2 linked regions of the Homo sapiens genome follow. The protein of the gene in region 2 purifies or fractionates together with the protein of the main gene of each other region. This does not show direct contact. Each region holds a gene or a part of one and is shown on either strand. Other genes may lie near its edges.

The links. Proteins that work in one complex are often made in the same cells at the same time.
Region 1: the proteins of ZDHHC16 (region 2) and PCK1 purify together in Homo sapiens (affinity purification with mass spectrometry; one large-scale study listed by BioGRID and IntAct). This does not show direct contact.

The regions. Positions count from the first base shown.
Region 1 is NC_000020.11:57,564,110-57,566,365, forward strand, and holds part of PCK1 (phosphoenolpyruvate carboxykinase, cytosolic [GTP]), read left to right. Parts: intron 1-59; coding exon 60-284; intron 285-372; coding exon 373-504; intron 505-930; coding exon 931-1,026; intron 1,027-1,240; coding exon 1,241-1,695; 3' UTR 1,696-2,256. UniProt on the Homo sapiens protein: Cytosolic phosphoenolpyruvate carboxykinase that catalyzes the reversible decarboxylation and phosphorylation of oxaloacetate (OAA) and acts as the rate-limiting enzyme in gluconeogenesis.
Region 2 is NC_000010.11:97,452,675-97,456,174, forward strand, and holds part of ZDHHC16 (palmitoyltransferase ZDHHC16), read left to right. Parts: intron 1-220; coding exon 221-249; intron 250-855; coding exon 856-989; intron 990-1,124; coding exon 1,125-1,172; intron 1,173-2,039; coding exon 2,040-2,125; intron 2,126-2,927; coding exon of another isoform or gene 2,928-2,985; coding exon 2,986-3,109; intron 3,110-3,299; coding exon 3,300-3,370; intron 3,371-3,500. UniProt on the Homo sapiens protein: Palmitoyl acyltransferase that mediates palmitoylation of proteins such as PLN and ZDHHC6.

The sequences.
Region 1 (2,256 bases), on a different chromosome or scaffold from region 2:
AGTATATGTTCTGCTTTGCCTGGCACTCACTACTGCTTCTCTGGTTTAAAACTCTCCAGGTCATTTAAGGGCCATCAACCCAGAAAATGGCTTTTTCGGTGTCGCTCCTGGGACTTCAGTGAAGACCAACCCCAATGCCATCAAGACCATCCAGAAGAACACAATCTTTACCAATGTGGCCGAGACCAGCGACGGGGGCGTTTACTGGGAAGGCATTGATGAGCCGCTAGCTTCAGGTGTCACCATCACGTCCTGGAAGAATAAGGAGTGGAGCTCAGAGGATGGTGTGTCCCTGCCAGAGGCCTTGGTGTGCCGGGCTGCAGGGACTGCCTGTTTGAGCCAGGCACTCACGAGCCTTTCTCTGTCTTATAGGGGAACCTTGTGCCCACCCCAACTCGAGGTTCTGCACCCCTGCCAGCCAGTGCCCCATCATTGATGCTGCCTGGGAGTCTCCGGAAGGTGTTCCCATTGAAGGCATTATCTTTGGAGGCCGTAGACCTGCTGGTGAGGCTCTCCTTCATTTAGGCTGGGAACATGGGTGTGCTGGGTACCGAAGGGCATCTGTGAAATCTCTCCTTTTCCATGACCTTGTCAGAGGGTGCCCAGGGGCTTCCTTTCTTGAGCTTCCTTCCCAAAGATCCAGAATAATTGGCAAGTTCAAATGTAGAACCAACCCTTCTGGTCACCTGGAACCTTTCTGAATCCCTGATCTATTGTAGCTTGATCAAATTTTACTTTTTACTTTGTGGCCTCAGTCATGTAACTTTGAGTTAGCAGTTTTCTGCAATTTAGCTTGGTGAACGCAAAACTAGCTCGATTACAAAGTTATTGTCTTGCCGTGTCTTTCCGTGTTGTGAATAACACCACTGGTTGTGGAGTCTGAATTTCAAAGCCTCTGATGAACATTTCTCTTTTTTTTTCCTGCTAAAGGTGTCCCTCTAGTCTATGAAGCTCTCAGCTGGCAACATGGAGTCTTTGTGGGGGCGGCCATGAGATCAGAGGCCACAGCGGCTGCAGAACATAAAGGTAAATCAAAGTCCTGATCTGAAACCACAGAGAAGTGGGATTAGAGCACTCTTCGTCACTCTTATGTCTCTCTCCTTTTCTGTGTCTGTGTGTGGGGAGAGAGAGAGAGAGAAAGAGAGAGAGGAGAACAAAGCATGCTAATGTCAACAATCAATGGCGTCAGTCTTGCCTAGGAGAGCCTCATTTACTAATGAACTCCCTCTCTGTTTAACAGGCAAAATCATCATGCATGACCCCTTTGCCATGCGGCCCTTCTTTGGCTACAACTTCGGCAAATACCTGGCCCACTGGCTTAGCATGGCCCAGCACCCAGCAGCCAAACTGCCCAAGATCTTCCATGTCAACTGGTTCCGGAAGGACAAGGAAGGCAAATTCCTCTGGCCAGGCTTTGGAGAGAACTCCAGGGTGCTGGAGTGGATGTTCAACCGGATCGATGGAAAAGCCAGCACCAAGCTCACGCCCATAGGCTACATCCCCAAGGAGGATGCCCTGAACCTGAAAGGCCTGGGGCACATCAACATGATGGAGCTTTTCAGCATCTCCAAGGAATTCTGGGAGAAGGAGGTGGAAGACATCGAGAAGTATCTGGAGGATCAAGTCAATGCCGACCTCCCCTGTGAAATCGAGAGAGAGATCCTTGCCTTGAAGCAAAGAATAAGCCAGATGTAATCAGGGCCTGAGTGCTTTACCTTTAAAATCATTCCCTTTCCCATCCATAAGGTGCAGTAGGAGCAAGAGAGGGCAAGTGTTCCCAAATTGACGCCACCATAATAATCATCACCACACCGTGAGCAGATCTGAAAGGCACACTTTGATTTTTTTAAGGATAAGAACCACAGAACACTGGGTAGTAGCTAATGAAATTGAGAAGGGAAATCTTAGCATGCCTCCAAAAATTCACATCCAATGCATAGTTTGTTCAAATTTAAGGTTACTCAGGCATTGATCTTTTCAGTGTTTTTTCACTTTAGCTATGTGGATTAGCTAGAATGCACACCAAAAAAATACTTGAGCTGTATATATATATGTGTGTGTGTGTGTGTGTGTGTGTGTGTGTGTGTGCATGTATGTGCACATGTGTCTGTGTGGTATATTTGTGTATGTGTATTTGTATGTACTGTTATTGAAAATATATTTAATACCTTTGGAAAAATCTTGGGCAAGATGACCTACTAGTTTTCCTTGAAAAAAAGTTGCTTTGTTATTAATATTGTGCTTAAATTATTTTTA
Region 2 (3,500 bases):
TATTACCACTTGTGAAAACCGAGGTTTGGAGAGATGAGTTACCTTGTCCAATATCTTATAGCCATTAAACTGCAGAGCTGGGTTTGAAGCAAGGCCTGGCTGTCTTCAAAGTCTGTGCCCTTTCCACCTCAGCAGGATGCTGGTCCTTGTAGGGAAGGATTGGCACTGACATCTCAAGAACTTTGGCCACCGTAACAGAGCCTGTGTCCCTTCCTCACAGGTGTGTGCTGAAGATGGATCACCACTGCCGTATCCTTTTGCTTTCTCTTCTGCCTGAGGCCTTCTTTAGCTCCAGAGCACTGTACAGGGTTAATGGCCACCATTTTAGCATCACCGTGCAGAGAACACTGGAGTTGAGGAGTTGTGGGGCCTGACCATCTCCTGGGAGAGCAGGAAGCTCACACTCTAGGACGGATCTTCTTGGAGCAGGGAATCTTTTAACACCTCTTTCTTTTCTAGACTCTCATGCTAACAGCTATTGGATGGAAAGAGATGTTTGGGCTTCTGTGGTTGTTTACTGTGTACGCCAGATAGAACCGTGGGTCTCCAGCTGCTGTTCCACACAGATGTTTGGCTAACTCCAGCTAGGCTGAAATATTGGCAGATTCATTTTACTGAAGGATTTCAGTTTCCGTGACTTCTTGGTGGGACCTGAATGCTCTGAAAAGCTTTGAGCATTTTCACCTCAACCTTGGGTGTGAACAGTCTTGTATTTTCTTGCCTTTGGAAAGTAGTTCTTAGTGACTGGAAGCCTGAGGCTTGGGTGATATTGTCAGGAACCAGGGATGAACCTGAGGGGCCTGGACACCGCCTGAAATTGTGTTTGATTCTAGTCCTTAATCATTTCCCAACCAGCCTGGCTAAACAATTGTGTGGGCCACTATAACCATCGGTACTTCTTCTCTTTCTGCTTTTTCATGACTCTGGGCTGTGTCTACTGCAGCTATGGAAGTTGGGACCTTTTCCGGGAGGCTTATGCTGCCATTGAGGTGAGCTCATCAGGAACAGGGCAGCTCAGTAGTGCAGAACTTCGGGATGTAGAACCTGTCCCTAAGGAATGGGGCTGGTAGCACCCCATCCTAGAGGCCTGAGAGTATAACCAGCACTGTTTTCCGTCCCCTTAGAAAATGAAACAGCTCGACAAGAACAAACTACAGGCGGTTGCCAACCAGGTGGGCTGTCCCCACCCCACTGCCTCCTGCTGCTCAGGCCTGGGGGTATAGAGTTGCTAAGGCATCTGGGGCCGACCTGCCCATGTAGTTGTAGAGGCTGCCGAGAGGCCACTCTAGACCAGATCAGGAGTGTTCAGGCAGGCTGGCTGTGGTGGGTAGACTAAGTGGCCTACAGGCAAGCTGGAAGTCCCTGGTATGTGACAGTTTTGGCTATCTATCCCGTCATCACCTCTCTTTGGGTCGAGCAAGCAATCTGCCTTGGTGATGGCCTGAGCAGCAAGGAGTCTATGTTAGTCTGTGTAATGGGGTTCCAGGGGACAGAGATCAGGCAGAGCCAGTCTGATCATCCCTTGCTCCTGGTCCATCTGCATCTGGATCATCCCTGCCCCCCCAGTACCTTTTAGGACTCCCTAATCTGCTGAGCCCATCTTGATTGTATTTCTGCTGCCCTTTCACAGTCCCTAGTGGAGCTCACAGTCCCTAGTGGTTTTCCCCACTCCAGTCAGTCCATTCTGGGTATGGTCTGGTCTCCTCTCTTGGGGATGCAGCTGTGCAGTGAAGGAGTTCTGGCTGGGGATTGGAGTGGCTTCCCCTGGAGCCCCATTTGTGTTGTCACTCTACAGGCCCAGGGTCAGCTTCTCCTGTGCTTCACCATCCTGTCCAGACCCTGCTCTGCTGCCCAGTGTTTGTCCATGTGGTGATGCCGCTGGGCTTGGTCCACCCATCTTGGCTGCTACCCTAACTCCTCTGTGGCTTTACCCTGTTTTCTCTGCCTGGATTTGGATCATTTCCTGCCTATAGGTGCTGGGGGCAGTTGCTGGAGACCCACAGAGCAAATGAGCCAGCTTTGCTGTTTTCTTTTTCTAGACTTATCACCAGACCCCACCACCCACCTTCTCCTTTCGAGAAAGGATGACTCACAAGAGTCTTGTCTACCTCTGGTTCCTGTGCAGGTATTTGTTTTTGATAGTTTTAAGGGAGGGGAAGCTTCAGAAAAAAAGTTTTTTAGGTGCCCACACGCAGGCAGAAACCCATTCCTAAGTGAACTGCCACTGCTCTAGTCTAACTTAGGTTGGCAGAGAGCCAGCACTTTCTTCAGCATTCAGGGCAGGGAGCACTGAGGATATTGGCATTGCTTATTACTAAGCACACAGATACAAGTATGTGCTTGATATGTAACCAAAGTAAGTTAAACTCCTTATTTAATCTTAGCACCTGTCTAAAGGCTGGGTGACTGTATTTATAGATGAGGAAAACTGAAAATTGGGGGCCAAGGGGCAGTGAAGTGAAGTGACTTGTTCTATGATACACAGCTAGTAGGAATATTAGCACTGGAATTTGAATTTCATGCCATCCCATTCCAACCCTGGGTGTTTACTACTTCCCACTATCTCCCAAGCATGGGTATTTTAGGAAATATAGAACATTTTCTCAGCAATACAGACTTATTTCTCTATTCTCCTTTCCACATACTCTCTTTTCCCTTAACAACAACAGAGATGGAGTCTTGCTATGTTGCCCAGGCTAGACTCAAATGATCTTCCTATCTCAGTCTCCTGAGTTGCTGGGACTACTAGGCATGAGCTACCATGCCTGGCTTCACATCATTTATTCTTAGGCCACTTTGATGCTTTTTCATTGATGCTCTTTATAGACATAGTGAAGTAAAAGTTTATCTAGGATATATGGTGGGAGGTGAGGAAGACTTAGGTAGAGAGGTTCCAAACCAGTTGTTACTGCTTAGCTCAATTTCAGACATACTTCCTCCAGCCCTCTCTAAACTACCCACCAGTCTTCGCCCCTCTTTTCTTAGTTCTGTGGCACTTGCCCTGGGTGCCCTAACTGTATGGCATGCTGTTCTCATCAGTCGAGGTGAGACTAGCATCGAAAGGCACATCAACAAGAAGGAGAGACGTCGGCTACAGGCCAAGGGCAGAGTGAGTAGGGTTGAAGGCTCGGGGTGGGTAGGTGGGTAACTGAACTTGCTCTCCTGTAAACAGAGGCCATGGGCAGGGCTGACTAGGGCAAGCATTGTAAAAGGCCAGAACTACTCTATCTGAGCTTTAGCTTAGCCAATTTAGTCTGAAAAATTAGAAGTTCAAAGAAACATGTTTTTCTTGGCTCCAGGTATTTAGGAATCCTTACAACTACGGCTGCTTGGACAACTGGAAGGTATTCCTGGGTGTGGATACAGGAAGGTAATGTAAGACACACAGACTAATGCTGTCCAACAGAACACTGTGATGAGAAAGATGTTCTATGCCTGTGAGCACTTGGAATATGGCTAGTGGCTACTGTGTTAGCACAGTTCTAGACTCTAGGAATAGA